4 linked regions of the Homo sapiens genome follow. The protein of the gene in region 2 interacts with the protein of the main gene of each other region in a pairwise test. Each region holds a gene or a part of one and is shown on either strand. Other genes may lie near its edges.

What was found.
Region 1: the proteins of ESR2 (region 2) and KPNA3 interact in binary tests that used the Homo sapiens proteins (3 or more experiments, as listed by UniProt).
Region 3: the proteins of ESR2 (region 2) and JMJD1C come close enough for resonance energy transfer, tested with the Homo sapiens proteins (one study listed by BioGRID).
Region 4: the proteins of ESR2 (region 2) and ZNHIT3 come close enough for resonance energy transfer, tested with the Homo sapiens proteins (one study listed by BioGRID).

Annotation. Positions count from the first base shown.
Region 1 is NC_000013.11:49,709,066-49,712,944, forward strand, and holds part of KPNA3 (importin subunit alpha-4), read right to left. Parts: intron 1,958-3,879; coding exon 1,826-1,957; intron 636-1,825; coding exon 507-635; intron 1-506. UniProt on the Homo sapiens protein: Functions in nuclear protein import as an adapter protein for nuclear receptor KPNB1. Binds specifically and directly to substrates containing either a simple or bipartite NLS motif.
Region 2 is NC_000014.9:64,259,753-64,263,631, reverse strand, and holds part of ESR2 (estrogen receptor beta), read left to right. Parts: intron 1-2,883; coding exon 2,884-3,183; intron 3,184-3,879.
Region 3 is NC_000010.11:63,168,861-63,172,739, forward strand, and holds part of JMJD1C (probable JmjC domain-containing histone demethylation protein 2C), read right to left. Parts: intron 1-3,879. UniProt on the Homo sapiens protein: Probable histone demethylase that specifically demethylates 'Lys-9' of histone H3, thereby playing a central role in histone code. Demethylation of Lys residue generates formaldehyde and succinate.
Region 4 is NC_000017.11:36,485,291-36,489,597, reverse strand, and holds the start of ZNHIT3 (zinc finger HIT domain-containing protein 3), read right to left. Parts: upstream 2,918-4,307; 5' UTR 2,899-2,917; coding exon 2,813-2,898; intron 2,664-2,812; coding exon 2,632-2,663; intron 1-2,631.

The sequences.
Region 1 (3,879 bases), on a different chromosome or scaffold from region 2:
TTTACTCTGTGATGACCAGGGCAGCACCTACCAGAAGCGATTAAAAGTTGAAAAAGGCTGGGCGCGGTGGCTCACGCCTGTAATCTCAGCACTTTGTGGGGCTGAAGCAGGCGGATCACAAGGTCAGGAGTTCGAGACCAGCCTGGCCAATATGGTGAAACCCCATCTCTACTAAAAATACAAAAATTAGCTGGGCGTGGTGGCGGGCACCTGTAGTCCCAGCTTCTCGGGAGGCTGAGGCAGGAGAATCGCTTGAACCCAGGAGGCAGAGGTTGCAGTGAGCCGAGATCGTGCCACTGCACTCCAGCCTAGGCAACAGACAGACTCTGTCTCAAAAAAAAAAAAAAAAAAGTTGAAGAAAAACATTTGCAGAGGTGATTTAAAATAATTCTCATCTTCGCTGCAGTGGCTTTTAAGAAAAACATACAAGTAGCAATAGAAACAAGGAGACAGTTAAAAATGAGACACAGAAAGAAATAGCATAATGAGGACATTATATGCCTTACCTTATTTATCTTCTCTTTTGGGTGTGATAAGAGATTTGGGAAGTGTGACAGGACATCACAATTGAGAACAACCTGGGTCTGCTCGTCGGTGCCAGTCACTATGTTGCCAACTGCTCTGAGGGCTGCTGTCTAGGGTGGGGATAAAATGTTTTCTATAAATTTATTTGCTTATAAGACTAATTCTATATTTTTCATAATCCTGAGAAAAAGTAAAAATGCAAGGCATAAATAACACTTATTTCATCCTTTCACAAAGCACCAAGCAGTCTGAGAGCTATTCTGAATTTTAAATAGTCTCTTGTGAAAAACTGAAACTTTATGAAAAAAAAAAATTGTGTGAAAATTGGTTGGAAAAAGATTCAAAAAATAAAAGGAAATTAAAATTTTAGAAGAAGTCCAGTTTCTTAAGGCTGGGCATGGTGGCTCATGCCTATAATCCCAGCATTTTGGGAGGCCGAGGCGGGGGGGATCACCTGAGGTCAGGAGTTTAAGACCAGCCTGGGCAACATAGTGAAACTCCATCTCTACTAGAAATACAAAAATTAGCTGGTGTGATGGTGCATGCCTGTAATCCCAGCTACTCTGAAGGCTGAGGCAGGAGAATCACTTGAACCTGAGAGGCAGAGGCTGCGGTGAGCAGAGATCGCGCCACCATACTCCAGCTTGGGCGACAGAACAAGACTCCATCTCAAAAATATATATAATATTTTAATAAACGCCTGGAATGGGCACACACTTCCACCTAGAAAGTCACTTTGGTAAAGCAGGATGAACAGATCTAATAAGTGCCTACCCCTAATTAGAGTGGGAGAGAGAAAGAAGAAATGCAATTAGGTTATTGCAATTATTTGGGGGAAAGATAGAGTCTTGAACTAAATCTGTTGTTCTAGATAGATAAGGAGAGACAGATTTGAACCTATATAAGAAGAATTGAAATGATTTTGTAATGGAATGGGAATTGCAAGGAGGAATCAAAATTTCTAGCTTAGGCCATGCTGTTCACTGAAGGTAGACAAGGAAGAAGAGCAGGTTTGTGGGAGATGATCGTTTCATTTCTGTCTAGTTAACCACGGAAAGCTTGAAGGAGTTCTTAGATGATATGTATAAAGGGTCAAGAACAATTGGCTATACAAGTGTGGAACTCAGCAAAGAAACTGGGTGAGATAAAGATTTGGAAATCAACAAAATCAGGCTCAGGGACTAGCAGAAGAAATGTGGAAGATAAGCACTTACAGATAGAATTAAAGCCTAGCTGTACAAGTTAACTGGTTATAGCAAACACAACTGTATACAAATAAGAAAAATTTAAAAATACTTACTTGAACTTTGACTTCCTGATGGCTCAGAAGGGGCACAAGAAAGGGCACAACTCCTGAATCAATAACCATCTGTATCTGTTCATTACCTCCATCTGTCAAGTATGACAGAGCCCAAACAGTGTCTACAAGAATCTACAGGAAACACAAAAGAAAAACCATTTTACATATTTGTTTGAATGCTTTACTTGTTCAACACACCTCAGGAGTAGTGACAGAAAAAGTAACCAAATTTCAAGTTTTAGCTTAGTGGCAAAAATATCTGCTTAGCTGATTAATCTATTAAGTAGAAAGTACCTTATCTTTCTTTCAGTGCCTACCTCAGATCATTCTTCACAGAAAATGAGACACAGAAGTCTGGGAAAACTTCTATTCCAACTTCTGCATTTATGTATCAGACAGATGAATTTAAAAACAGGCAGAAAAGTAATTCTCCCTGCCCTCACAAATTAGCTACCTAATAATCCCACAGAAAAACACTATTTACAAGAATGAGGCCAACACACCATACTGTTTCAAGTTCAGAAGAGAACAGAAAGGTCATCTATTTACTCTACTGGTTTTCCAACATATTTAGCAATACAATTTTTCAGGCTACTAAAGTAAACCAATAAAAGAAATGACTTGGCACTTTAACTTCATCTGGGGAAAAAACTGTTTGAAAATCTCCTGAAATGTGTCCCCAACTGAAGTATAAACCTGGAGTATAAACCATGCCCTAGGCCTATCCTAACTTTGCAACTACATAGAAGAAAACAGGCTTAGCGATCTGGTGATTCATTCAAGGTCAAAGATCTTGTATGTGGCATTGCTTGGTGTCGTCACAGAGGAATATAAGCACTGGTTGTAGCTTATGCAAAATCAAGATGTTTCCTATTAGGTCATCCAAATTGAAGACATCACATCTTTTTGCCCTAAAATAATAGCAGGCACCTGAATTCACATACCCTTCAAAAAAGGATATAGATGAATAAATAAAATAGAACTACACATATAACCCACACCCCTTCAGCATTACTAAGAGTCAGAGAACACTAAAAATTTCCATTATCTGTAAGAGGAGAAAAAATTAAATTCTAGCTTTTGTCTGGACCTCTTGCCTCAAGACTGTGTAAAAGAGAGGACAGAAGCTGGGCCTAAGAGCTGAGCCCACCTACCAGCCCATTTCCCACTCTGGAAGTGAGGAGGCCTCCCTGCTGGAGGTGTCTGCAGATGCTGGGTCTGAGAACAAAGTCTGGCTACTGCCCACCCTGGCAGTAACAGTAACTAGATTTACCTAGAAACAGGGGTCTCAAAGCATAACACCAATATGTGTAGGCTACAATGGAAAATAACCCTTCATACCAAGATCCAGGAAATTCTCAAAAGAGAAAAGACAGTCAACAGATGCCAATATTGAGATGACACACATATTGGAATTATCTGACAAGGACTTGATAAGATTTTAAAGTAACTATCATAAAAATGCACTGGTGAACAATTATGAACACATTTGAAACAAATTTAAAGTGGGAATTCTCAGCAAAAAAACCCGACATGATAGAAGGGGGAAAAAAAAATAAATGAACCCAAAGATACATCAATAGAAATCATCCAAACTGAATAACAGAAAAAAAAAAAGATTAAACAGAAATTAACTCTCAGGAACTTCCAGCACAATAACAATAGATCTAATATTTGTGTCTTCAGAGACCCTACAAGGAAAGGCGGAGCTGAAAAAAATATGAAGAAATATGTTCCAAATTTGGCAAAATAGATAAGTCTAGAATCAGATTAAAAAATGGGAGGTTGAGGCAAGAAGAGAAAATAGAATAAGCTCATGCATCATTGCACAGGTAAGAGACAGAAGTAAAAAAATATATCATTTAAAACTGTCAAAACAGATAGTAAGAGAGCATTAAAAAGGTGTAAGAATAAAGGTAACCACTAGAACAAAAATACAAACTTCCCCAAATACCAAAAGAAAATTGAGAAAGACAAAAGTATGCTTAGCAGAGAAAAAAAAAAACACAGGGACATTATTTCACAAAATGACAGTTCAAATCAATCTATCAACC
Region 2 (3,879 bases):
TGTCACCCAGGCTGGAGTGCATGGCACGGTCTCGGTTCACTGTGCCTCCTGGGTTTGTGCGACTCTCCTGCCTCAGCCTCTTGAGTAGCTGGGACTACAGGAATGCACCACCATGCCTGGGTAATTTTTGTATTTGTAGTAGAGATGGGGTTTTTCCATTTTGGCCAGGCTGGTCTCAAACTCCTGACCTCAGGTGATCCGCCCACCTTGGCCTCCCAAATTGCTGGGATTACAGGCATGAGCCAGCGCACCTGGCCTTTGTTGTTTTGAAGTATATGAGTTTAGAATTATTTATCTTTTTAAAATATTCTAGCGATGAGTCTCCTTATCTATAATAATAATTTTTGCCTTAAAGTTTATTTGTCTGGTATCAATAGAGTAATGTCAATTTATTTGGTTAATTTTGCCTGTTAAATATTTTTCTATCTGTCTACTTTGTTTTTCTATATGTTAGGTATATCTCTTACACCTAATCTATGTCTAGATTTAAAAATATGTATAATTTCAGAGTCACTCTTAAATGGTCAATTTGGTATTTTTTGTTTATTGTGATAACTGATATTTGGGTTCATTTCTATCATCTTATTTTTTGATTTAAAAAATTTTATTATGTATTTTCTACTTCTTCCCTTTTAGGAGTTGATCACATTTTTATGTTTTCTTTTTCTTCTTTTGCTAGTTTAAAAGTCATACATTCTGTTTCAATTCCCTTTTATCTTTTGAGACAGAGTCTCGCTGTGTCACCCAGGCTGGAGTGCAGTGGTGTGATCTTGGCTCACTGCAGCCTCTGCCTCCCAGGTTCAAGTGATTCTCCTGCCTCACCTTCCTAAACAGCTAGGATTACAGGCATTTGCCACCATGCCCAGCTAATTTTTGTATTATTAGTAGAGATGGGGTTTCACCATGCTGCCCAGGTTGGTCTTGAACTCCTGGCCTCAAGTGATCCGTCCCCTCCCGCCCCACCCGCCGAAACCACCTTTGGCCTCCTAAAGTTCTGGGATTACAAGTGTGAGCCACCATGTTTGGCCATGTTTCAATTCCTTTAATGACGTTTATGTTTTGTAACGTGTTCTTGATTAATTTGAGAATTTAAGCTTCTATCTTCCCAAAAAAGAATCTTAGAAATTCTAACCAAAATCATTCCTCTCTGATTTTGCATGTTATTGTTTGTTATTTTGGTTCCACCTTGTTTCTATATCACTAAAACTTAATTCTTGGGCCGGATGTGGTGGCTTATGCCTGTAATCCCAGCACTTTCAGAGGCCAAGGCAGGAGGATCACTTGAGCCCAGGAATTCGAGACCAGCCTGGGCAACATGGTGAGACCCTGTCTTTACAAAAAATACAAAAATTAGTCAGATGTGGTGGTGCACACTTGTAGTCCCAGCTATCCAGGAGGCTGAGGTGGGAGGATCTCTTGAGCCTGGGAGGTTGAGGCTGCAGTGAGCTGTGATCATGACTGTACCACCATACTTCAGCCTGGGTGACAGAGACCTTGTCTCTTAAAAAAAAAAAAAAAAAAGTAAATCCAAAGAACAAGCATATAAATCAACTTTGCTAGTAATTAAAACATACAAAGTAAAGCGAGATGGTTTAGTTAGATTAGCAAACATTAAAAATGATTTTTAATGCCCAATGGGTTCTGAGAAAACAGTCAAACTATTGAGGACTGGGTAACATAGTAAGACCCTAGTTCTACAAAAAAATTTAAAAGTTAGCTGGGCATGGTGGCATATTCCTGTAGTCCCAGCTACTCAGGAGGCTGAGGCAGGAGGATTGCTTGAGTCCAGGAGATGAAGGCTGCAGTGAGCTATGATTGCATCATTACACTCCAGCTTGGGCAACAGAGCAGGACTCTGTCTCAAAAATACAATTAAAATAGTGTAGATACTACAATCTAATTTTGTGTATAAAGGCTGGGTGCAGTGGCTCACGCCTGTAATCCCAGCACTTTGGGAGGCCAAGATGGGCAGATCACTTGAGAATCAGGAATTTGAGAGCAGCCTGGCCAACATGGTGAAATCACATCTCTACTAAAAATATAAAAATTAGCCAGGCATGGTGGCGGGCTCCTGTAATCCCAGCTACTTGGGAGGCTAAGGCAGGAGAATCGCTTGAACCCGGGAGGCTGAAGTTGCAGTGAGCCAAGAATGTGCCACTGAACTGCAGCCTGGGTGACAGAGTGAGACTCCGTCTCAAAAATAAATAAATAATTTTGTGTATAAAACGTGGAAAAATATGGTGGCAGGCACCCATAGTCCTAGCTACTCGGGAGGCTGAGGCAGGAGAATGGCGTGAACCCGGTAGGCGGAGCTTGCAGTGAGCCGAGATCACACCACTGCACTCCAGTCTAGGCCACAGAGCAAGGCTCCGTCTCAAAAAAAAAAAAAAAAGAAAAAAGAAAAATAAAAGCATTAAAAAGACTGAAAGAGTTTATGCCAAAATTTATTCTCTTCTATATTTTTCAGATTTTTTCACTTAATTTGTTATTTGAAATATACTTGTTTTGTGTAAGTATAAGGAAATATATACATATGCACACATGCATATAAACATTTTAAGAATGTGTTATAATAAAAGTATATTATTTGATACCTTTGGAAATATCCCCATTTTTCTACCTGAAGAAAATTCCTAATTTCATGGTTTGGAAACAGGTTTATGAGCACTCTTTATAGAGAAACGGTGTTAGTATCTATAGATGACCTGGAAATGGAGACCTAAAAAGTTTCTGAAAAGTTATGTCGTTGGTTTTGCTAGTACGGTCACGACCATAGTAATCTTTGGTACGTGCCCCACAGGCTCCAGAAAATAAAAGTCAAGCTGCTTTTGCTTGACTGCGGTTTTACCCTGGCAATTCGAATGACTCTGCTTTCCTCTTCAGGCTCCCGGAGAGAGAGATGTGGGTACCGCCTTGTGCGGAGACAGAGAAGTGCCGACGAGCAGCTGCACTGTGCCGGCAAGGCCAAGAGAAGTGGCGGCCACGCGCCCCGAGTGCGGGAGCTGCTGCTGGACGCCCTGAGCCCCGAGCAGCTAGTGCTCACCCTCCTGGAGGCTGAGCCGCCCCATGTGCTGATCAGCCGCCCCAGTGCGCCCTTCACCGAGGCCTCCATGATGATGTCCCTGACCAAGTTGGCCGACAAGGAGTTGGTACACATGATCAGCTGGGCCAAGAAGATTCCCGGTAGGGCTTTCTGGCTATCAGTTTTCCATGTACTTGTAGAAAGGCCGGCCGCTAATATTTAAGGGGCAAGAGTACAAAGTAGAGGTCCATGAGCTGTGCCTAGATATTTAACAGGTCCTCAGCTGGATTTGTAACTTTTAAGTGCAATATGTTCCTTCCTTCTGTCTTGGCATACCTACCTTCAACAAGGCCGTGTTCTGATTTAGAATTCTGAGACTCTTCTGAGTTCTGTACCCAACATGGTAGTGCAGAAAGAGTTGTGCGTGGCCCAGCCATTTCTATTCTTGACTGCCTTCTTTTCCCATGGCTAGATGCATCCCATACCACCTTGCACAAACCCTATCCTGTGTGTCCACATCTGCTACAGACACTCACCTGTTGGCCACCTCTCATGCCTAGAGGTGGTCTGGGAGGATGGACCCAGGGAACCTACCTAGGCTCTGGAATTGGGCTTGGGGTCATTTGGGCAAGAATCCTAGAGTCCTGGAACCTGGAACGTGGTTAAAATGATAGACTCCACATTGACCCATTTCTTGGCTGTGGATTCCTCACCTTGAAAGGAGGGGTGGGGTAGAGTACAGTATGACTAGTTTGAAAGTGAAAGGTTTGTCAGATGCTAAATAGAATTTTGTAAATTATTGTTCCAGTAGAGAATCAATATTATGTACATAAATGAATATGTATGGACAAACAGAG
Region 3 (3,879 bases), on a different chromosome or scaffold from region 2:
CAAAGTGGACTTTTAAAAAATGTGTTACTTTTAAAAACTAACTTGAAAGAATTTATGAGGCAATCTATCTGAGTATGTTTATTGTTGCTCCATTGGCTTTCAGGATTTTGGTCATTTCACTGTTAACTCTTACATCAGAGAATAAAGAAAAGAAAATGAAACTTTGTTAGGAACTGGGATGGAAAATGTAGTCCCAGACAGATCTACTGACCTCGACTGAGTTTCAGAAATATCCCAGGATTTTGGTTATTCATGCCTTTCTTTTGTGACTTTCTTTCAAATTAGCCAATTAAAGATACCCCTTCAATCACCGGTGACATCAGTACAACAGTTTTTCAACAGTTTTCTCTCTCCTGACCAAACAGTTTTCCCAAGAAGCCAGTCAATAGTCTTATCTGTTATTTGTTCAGCATTTACAAACTGACTTTGCACTTGACTATTAGAGCTGCTTTCTATTAATGCCAGTAAAACAACAGAGGAAGGCCCAAGCTGATCCAATCTGGGATTTGTGGTGTTTCTAGATTGTCTTCTAGTGATATTAAAAAACATCATAAAAATTCCTGGGAAAGGAGAAATAATTGAAAAACTAAGCATTTAAAGTTACTCTAAGTATGCAAAATAAATTTAATTGGGAGGAGTGAGATGAAAGAGATAGTAAGTGGGAAATGGAGACTGTGGGGAAAAAAAATCTAATTGATGATAGGGTGATGGAATTCCAGAGGGGCTAGAATTCCTCCTCTGGGCATAATGACCACCTGAACAGCTGCTGAAGTCTGCAGAGTTCTTTAACTCAAGCACTGTGCCTCTATTGATAACTTGGTAGCATAGTAAAGTAAACATTCTCTTTCTTTAATCATTAGGCTGTTGGTTCCTCTGGAGGATGAACATAGTGGATGCCTCACATTTTCAGCATTTCTGTACAGTCTCACTGGCTCTTCATAATGTGTCTGTAGAACAGATGCTCTATTTCACAGAGCAGGAAACTATGGATGAGATGTTCAGCGCCTGTCCCAAGACAAATCAGCCAATAAATGGCAAGTCAACAGGAGCCCAACTCCTGCGGTGTCTTGTCTAACAGATGCTTTACAGTCCTGCTTATTAACTCTCATACCAGCATACAGAGTCTCCAAATGCCCTCTCTCCTTATGTCTTTCATTTATCTGAACTTAAGGAGAGTAAGTCTTTCCAAAGTTTTAGCATGAAAGAACTTTTGGTATATCTAGCTCTAGCATGTCCTAAAATCATTTGTAGCTCCAAAATGTATACTTGGTTCTTTTTTTATATAATTTATTGATATTCTCACTTTGTTCATCCATCGTTTTCCTGATTTCTGCTGGCTCTTTGAGCATATTTAAGACAGTTGTCTAGTAGTAAGTCCAATGTCTGGGCTTCCCGGGGAAGGTTTTTGCCAATTTATTTTCTCCCTTTGAATGGGCCATACTTTCCTCTTTCTGTGTATGCCTTATACCTTTCTGTTGAAAACTGGGCATCTGAACATTACAATGGGTAATCATATTCTCTCCCTGCCTCAGGGTTTGCTGTTGTTGATTCCTGAGGGCTCCAGTCATCCATTTGTTTAGTGACTTTTCCAAACTGTTTTTGCAAAGGCAGTATTCCTTGTTGGGTGTGGTCACTGAAGTCTCTGTTCCACTATCTCACTGGTCAGCCAGTTACCTAACAGAGATTTCCTTAAATGCCAAAAATCAGCTGCCCTTTTCTTCATTAAGCAGTCTCTTGGTTGCTGTTGTAAGTTTTCAATTAGATTCCAGAGTTCTGAAAAAGTTCATTCTGTCAGTCTTTGCCAGCTTATGGTTGTTTTAAAATGACTTTTAGAACAGTAACCTTTATTAGTGCTTACAAGATGCTATTAGGTTTCCTAATGACCCCTACCTGATATATTTTGGATAAAGGCTTGAGGGTTACTTTGAAGAGCCAAGGTTCAGTTTTAAAGCAGAACACAACTCAGCTTCTCATTCTGATTATCCCTTTTCTTTGCCACATTTGACTCATTTATATTTCACTTCCTTGACATTGTCTTATTCATACTTGCCTAAAAGCATCAGTTATAATTATAAATAGGTAATGTTAAGAAAATATAATTTGTATTCATAGTAGGAAGGTTATTATATTGACACTGTGATTGCTATTTACTCAGTTATTTGTGAGAACTTAGTGTGGAAAGATTTTGCCAAGAAGTCCTTTTGGTCATATAAATACAGAGAATTACAACTTTACAATTTTCTAAACTCATGATAAATGACCAAACACAATCAAAGTTAGTATTTTTCGACAAATTTTACTAAAGATTATGTGTTAACTTAAAAAAAAAACAACTGTTGCTGTTTTTAAGTAAAGGCCACTCTAAACCTCAGAATACTACAGCTGAGACAAAAATCCTGGAGGTCAGGGTCATTGCTCTGTGGAGGGATGTACAGGAGTTTCACAGACTGAGTCCCAGTTACCAAGGTAAGATTTGTAAGTCTCCAATTCTAGAATAGTTCTTAGCATATAAAGAGGGCTGTGGCTATGCTGCTTTCCCTCAGCTTGCTAAGATTATATATCTCAGCTTCCTTGAACAGACAGCCCACTCTTCTCAGTTTGGCTCTGGCAATGGTCATTGCTGACGGGCCAAAGAACAGAATGTTGTTTCTTCCCTAGCACTGCTGGCCCTTGTCATGCAGAATCACTTGGTTGAAAATTTTTTGATAGGTGCCTTGGGTTTGCATGAGATTCCTATTTGTGTGGTTTCCAAAGTGTGGTCCCTGAACAGTAAAATCAGCATTTCCTGGAAACTTGTCAGAAATCTATAGTTTCAGGTCCCTCCCCAGACCCATTGAAATCAGAAACTCTGGTGGTGGGGTACAGCAATCTGCTTTATCAAGCCCTCCATGAAATTCTAACATATGCTGAAGTGTCAGAATACTGATTTAGAGTCTGATTATTCTGAGGGCCACCTATAGCCTACTGGAAGTGTTGAAGTCATTAACAGTTTTCAGAACTTCTAAGACCTAAACAGGTTGTAAGTAATAATGCATCTCAAATCCAGGTTAATATTGTAAACACTTATTACTTCCCTTGAATTTTCTCTTAAAACTGCATTGCCACCAATTGTGAATTACGGACAACATCCTTTCAACAGAGTATAAAGAGCTGTGTTGTTGTCATTACACCCCACAGGAGAGGAAAGGTAGCAATTCCCTTTTGTACAGCTGGCAATTTCTGTGCCAAAATATGTAGCAAAGAAGTTAGATCTTGTTTTGGATCACTCAGCAATTTAGTGGCAGAGCTCAGAATATAATTTGTCAGTCTAGGTCATATATGCTGCCTTGGTGTATTTAGATATAACATTTTTTATAGATGTAATCTTGTTTCTATAATCTATGTGAATTTTCTAACTATCTCAAAGAAAATGTGTATAGACATAAAGTGGATTCCAACCTAAGTAAACTTTTGGAAGTAGCCAGAGAAAGCACATATAGGAAGAAGTAAACATTTACATGTTTTACAAAAAGCCCAATACATATAAATTATAGAAAGCCATAAATTTGTTTTCCTCTACCCTTGTGCAAAAACATGTTGTTACTGAGAACGTATTTTCTGGCCTTCAGAATAGAGACTTATTAATAATACAAACATTAAGTGCATTATTCTAGGCATGGGAAGAGAGCAATGGAAAAGATAAATCTCTTACTTCATCATGCTTACGTTCCAGTGGGGGTTAAAAGACAAGCAAAGTGAGTAAATTATAAAGCATATTTTAAGGTGACAACTGAAATGGAGGAAAATAAAGCAGGAAAGACGACAGAAAGTTGGGGGACACAATTTACAGCTTTAAACTAGACCTCACCAAGAAGGTGAAATTTGAATGAAGCCTAAAAA
Region 4 (4,307 bases), on a different chromosome or scaffold from region 2:
CAAAAGAAGACATATAAATGGCCAACAAGTACATGAAAAAATGTTCAACATCACTAATTATTAGGGACATGCAAGTCAAGACCACAATGAGGTATCATCTCACCACAGTAAGAATGGCTATTATCAAAAAGAAAAAAACATGTTGGCAAGGATGTGGAGAAAAGGGAACTCTTATACACTGCACTGTTATTGGGAATGTAAATTAGTATAGTCATTATGGAAAACAGCATAGAGGTTCCTAAAAAAAAACTACGAATAGAACTACCATATGATCCAGCAATCCCACTACTGTATATATATCCAAAGGAAATGAAATCAGTCTGCCGAAGAGATACCTGCACTCCTGCGTTTACTGCTAGTCACAACAGCCAAGATAAGGAATGAACCTAAGGATCCACCAACAGATGGATAAAGAAATGCGGTACATATATACACTGGATATTAGCCATAAAAAACCATGAAATCCTGTCACTTGCAGGAACATGGATGAGCCCAAAGAACATAATGTTAAGTGAAACAAGCCAGGCACCATAAGATGTTCTTGTTAACATGTGGATGCTAAGCAAGTTGATTTCACAGAAGTAGAGAGCAGAATAGTGGTAACTGGAGGCTAGGAAGAGTAGAGTGTAGGGGGCTAGGGAGAAGTTGCTTAATGGATACAAAATTACAGCTAGATGGGAGGAATAAGTTCTAGTGTTACACAGTACCTTAGTGTGACCATGTTGGCAGCAATTTATACTTTCAAATAGCTACAAGAGAGGATTGCGAGTGTTCCCAACATGAAGAAATGATTATTTGGGGCGAATATGCTAATTACCCTAATTTGATCCTTAAACATTGTATACAGGTATCGAAGTATCACACTGTAACTCAAATTGTATGCAATTATGTGTCAATTAAAAACAAATATTAAAAAGAAAAATCAACCAATAGGAGGCTTTATATAAATAATGGTCGTACCAACTATATAATGAAATAACATACAGTCCTTTAAGTCAGTGAGCTAGAACTTGTATGCACTAGTCTTTATTTTTAATTTTTTTAATTTTTTTTTAGATGGAGTCTCACTCTGTTGCCCAGGCTGGAGTGCAGTGGTGCAGTCTTGGCTCACTGCAACCTGCGTCTCCATGGTTCAAGCAATTATCCTGCCTCAGCCTCCTAAGTAGCTGGGATTACAGGCGCGCACCTCCACACCCAGCTTATTTTTGTATTTTTAGTAGAGATGTGGTTTCATAATGTTGGCCAGGCTGGTCTCGAACTCCTGACCTCAGGTGATCCACCCACCTTGGCATCCCAAAGTGCTGGGATTACAGGCATGAGCCACTGCGCCCAGCCTGTATGCACTAGGTTTTAAAAAGTGCCCAATATATAAACTCAAATGAGGATGTTGGGTACAGTCTCATTGCTGAGATTCTAAAAGCTAAAAAAAAAAGTTCTATATATTGGTACAAGAGTGGAAATAAGCTGAAAGAATCTACATCAAGCTTTTTTTTTTTTTTTTTTTGAGACAGTCTTGCTGTCTCCCAGGCTGGAGTGCAGTGGTACGATCCTGGCTCACTGCAACCTCCTCCTCCCAGGCTCAAGCGATCTTCCCACCTCTGCTTCCTGAGTAGCTGGGACCACTGGCACAGGCCACCACGCCTGGCTTTGTTTGTTTATAGAGACGGGGTTTCGCTATGTTGCCCAGGCTGGTCTCAAACTCCTGAGCTCAAATGATCCGCCCGCCTCGGCCTCCCAAAGTGCTGGGATTACAGGCGTGACCCACCGCGCCCCACCTACATCAAACTTTTTTTTTTCTTTTTTTTTCCAGACTGAGTCTGGCTCTGTAGCCCAGGCTGGAGTGCAGTGGTGCGATTTCGGCTCACTACAACCTCCGCCTCCCGGGTTCAAGCGATTCTCCTGCCTCAGCCTCCTGAGTAGCTGGGATTACAGGCGCGCACCTCGCCCGCCTAATTTTTGTATTTTTAGTAGAGACGGAGTTTCACCATGTTGGCCAGGCTGGTCTCGAACTCCTGGGCTCAGGTGATCCACCCGCCTTGGCCTCTCAAAGTGCCGGGACCACAGGCGTGAGCCACCGCGCCCGGCCAGGTCACTTCTTTTTAACTGTACAAAAGTGTGTTCACATCATACACAGAACTTACTTGGTTCTTTTTTTCTCTTAACAAATCAAGGACGTCTCCTTGTATTGTACATGGACTTACCTCTTTGTTTCTAACAAGACATTATTTACACGAGTGAAAATACTGTTAAAGTTAGCGCAGTTTCAGCCAAATGGTGAGGGGCTACATCAGAATACTGAGGAAGAAACTGCTAGGGTAGACCTCGGTGGGAAAAGCAATCGGAAACTATTTCTAAGCAAAAAAGAGTAACACGCAGAAGGAGAAGCGGGGTAGAAGAAAGGCTACTGACCAAAACCCTGAGAGCGATTACAGGCAGGGACAACAGAGGGAACTGTCCGACACACAGAGACACCAGGGACCAAGTCAGAGGAAGCAAGGTTCCTGCAGAACCCGCGGAGACCCGAGGCGGGAAAGGAAGCGCAGCCCAAGGGTCCACGCCCCCAAGACGGAGGCTGGACGTGGGGGCTGCCCCGTGCGCAGTGGTACGAGGGCTGGCGGGGACGGGGCTCACCTTTGTGCTTCCGGAAGCAGACTACCGAGCAGCTGTAACAACAGAGGCCACAGGCCGCGTCAGCCCCGAGGGTCCCCGGCCCCTCCAGCAGCCCGCCCGCTCCCGCCCGGCCTCCCGGCCTCCCGCCCTCCCGCCATGGCCGGACACCCGCGCCCCTGGACCCCGCGACCTCCCCGCTCACTAGGGCACGCGGCAGGCTGGACAGCGGTATTTGGGCTTCTCCAAGCAGATCACGCAGACGACGGTGCTACATTTGAGCGACGCCATGGTTTTGTGGAAGGAGACTGTTCACTGCGCCGCCGCGCGCCTCTCACGCAGCCGCGCCCGCGTGCACGCCCCTTTTTCCGTTTCCTAAACGGGGACCAATCAGCGCTCAGCAGGTAGGCAAAAGCAATGGACTGATCCTGCTCACTGTTCCAGCCCTCGTACTTAGAGCGTCGATACACTCGATGCGCATCTATTAGCTGCGTCCCAGGTTTTCCTTGATTAGATCACAGCGTCGAAGAACTTGTTATGTAGCCCAGTCCCTGTCCCTATGCGGCCGTGTGGCTTGGAGCAAGCCATCGACACTGTCCAGGTGTGTTGCCCCGCATGTAAAAAAGAAAACAATACATGGAACTAAACGTCCTTTACTTTCTGGCTGGGACTTCCTGAATCTTGCAGGGACATTGGGGTTCATCCGCCCATCTCATCTGCTTATTCTTGGCAAAGGACAAGTCCAGACATTGGGCGAACCAGAATCGGTTGGATCACGCAGTAGACAGGAACCTGCCCTTCCCAACCTAGACCATTTTTCACTGGGGAAAGAAAGATGAGCCTGAACAGTGGCAAATGTTTGAGCTCCAACTGTGAGCCCTTCCGGGCTGGGGACCCCCCGGGGTCTTCTAATGAAGAAGTCGTCTCTGTCCCCTGGGAACTAAATGCTTAGAGTGAAAGTAGGACGGGGAAACGGGGAGGAAAGAGACTCACTCTTAGAGTCCTGCCGTCGCTACCCTGCACCTGCACGCCCCTGAGACTGAGTGCTTCTTAAATTTTGCACTCTAGGCTCCTCACACCTCCCCCTAGTCCCGGAAGCTAATTGACCAGGAAGCAGGCCAGTGACCACTAGTCCCAAGACGGGGATCCCAGGCAGATGAGTCTGGATAGATGGGCTATGATGGGACTTGAATGCCACCACAAACTTTAGGTTTAGAAAAAGTAATGTTTTTTGTTGTTTGTTTTTTAAGGAAATTTGCTTGCAGCTAGGCATGGCCCAGCCTTACCTTAGCTCCCATCCTACCTGCACTGGGCCCTCCCAGGGCCATAAATCACCCTTACTCCCAAGTGCCTCCTCTTCTGTGTTGGCCGTTCAGCCTTCAGGGTCCCTCTTCAATAAAGGTGTCTGCAGGGATGTATCTGCAACAACCGAGGCAGTGGTTTGAACCTTGGCTCAACCCCCTCCCTGGCTGTGTGACCTGGAGGGGTTGGTTACCCCCTCTGAGCTCCCTCATCTATTAAAGTGGATGTTTGGGCCTACTTTCCTGAGCTGTTGTAAAGCAGAGAGGAGACCATGTGCAAAAGTTTTGTAATCAGAAGTGCTACCTGATATCTAGAAAGAGTCTTAACTCTCATGGATCTCCGTCTGGACCGCATGAACATAGGTCCCAGGCCCCAAGCCATGCTCTCCAAAACAGTTC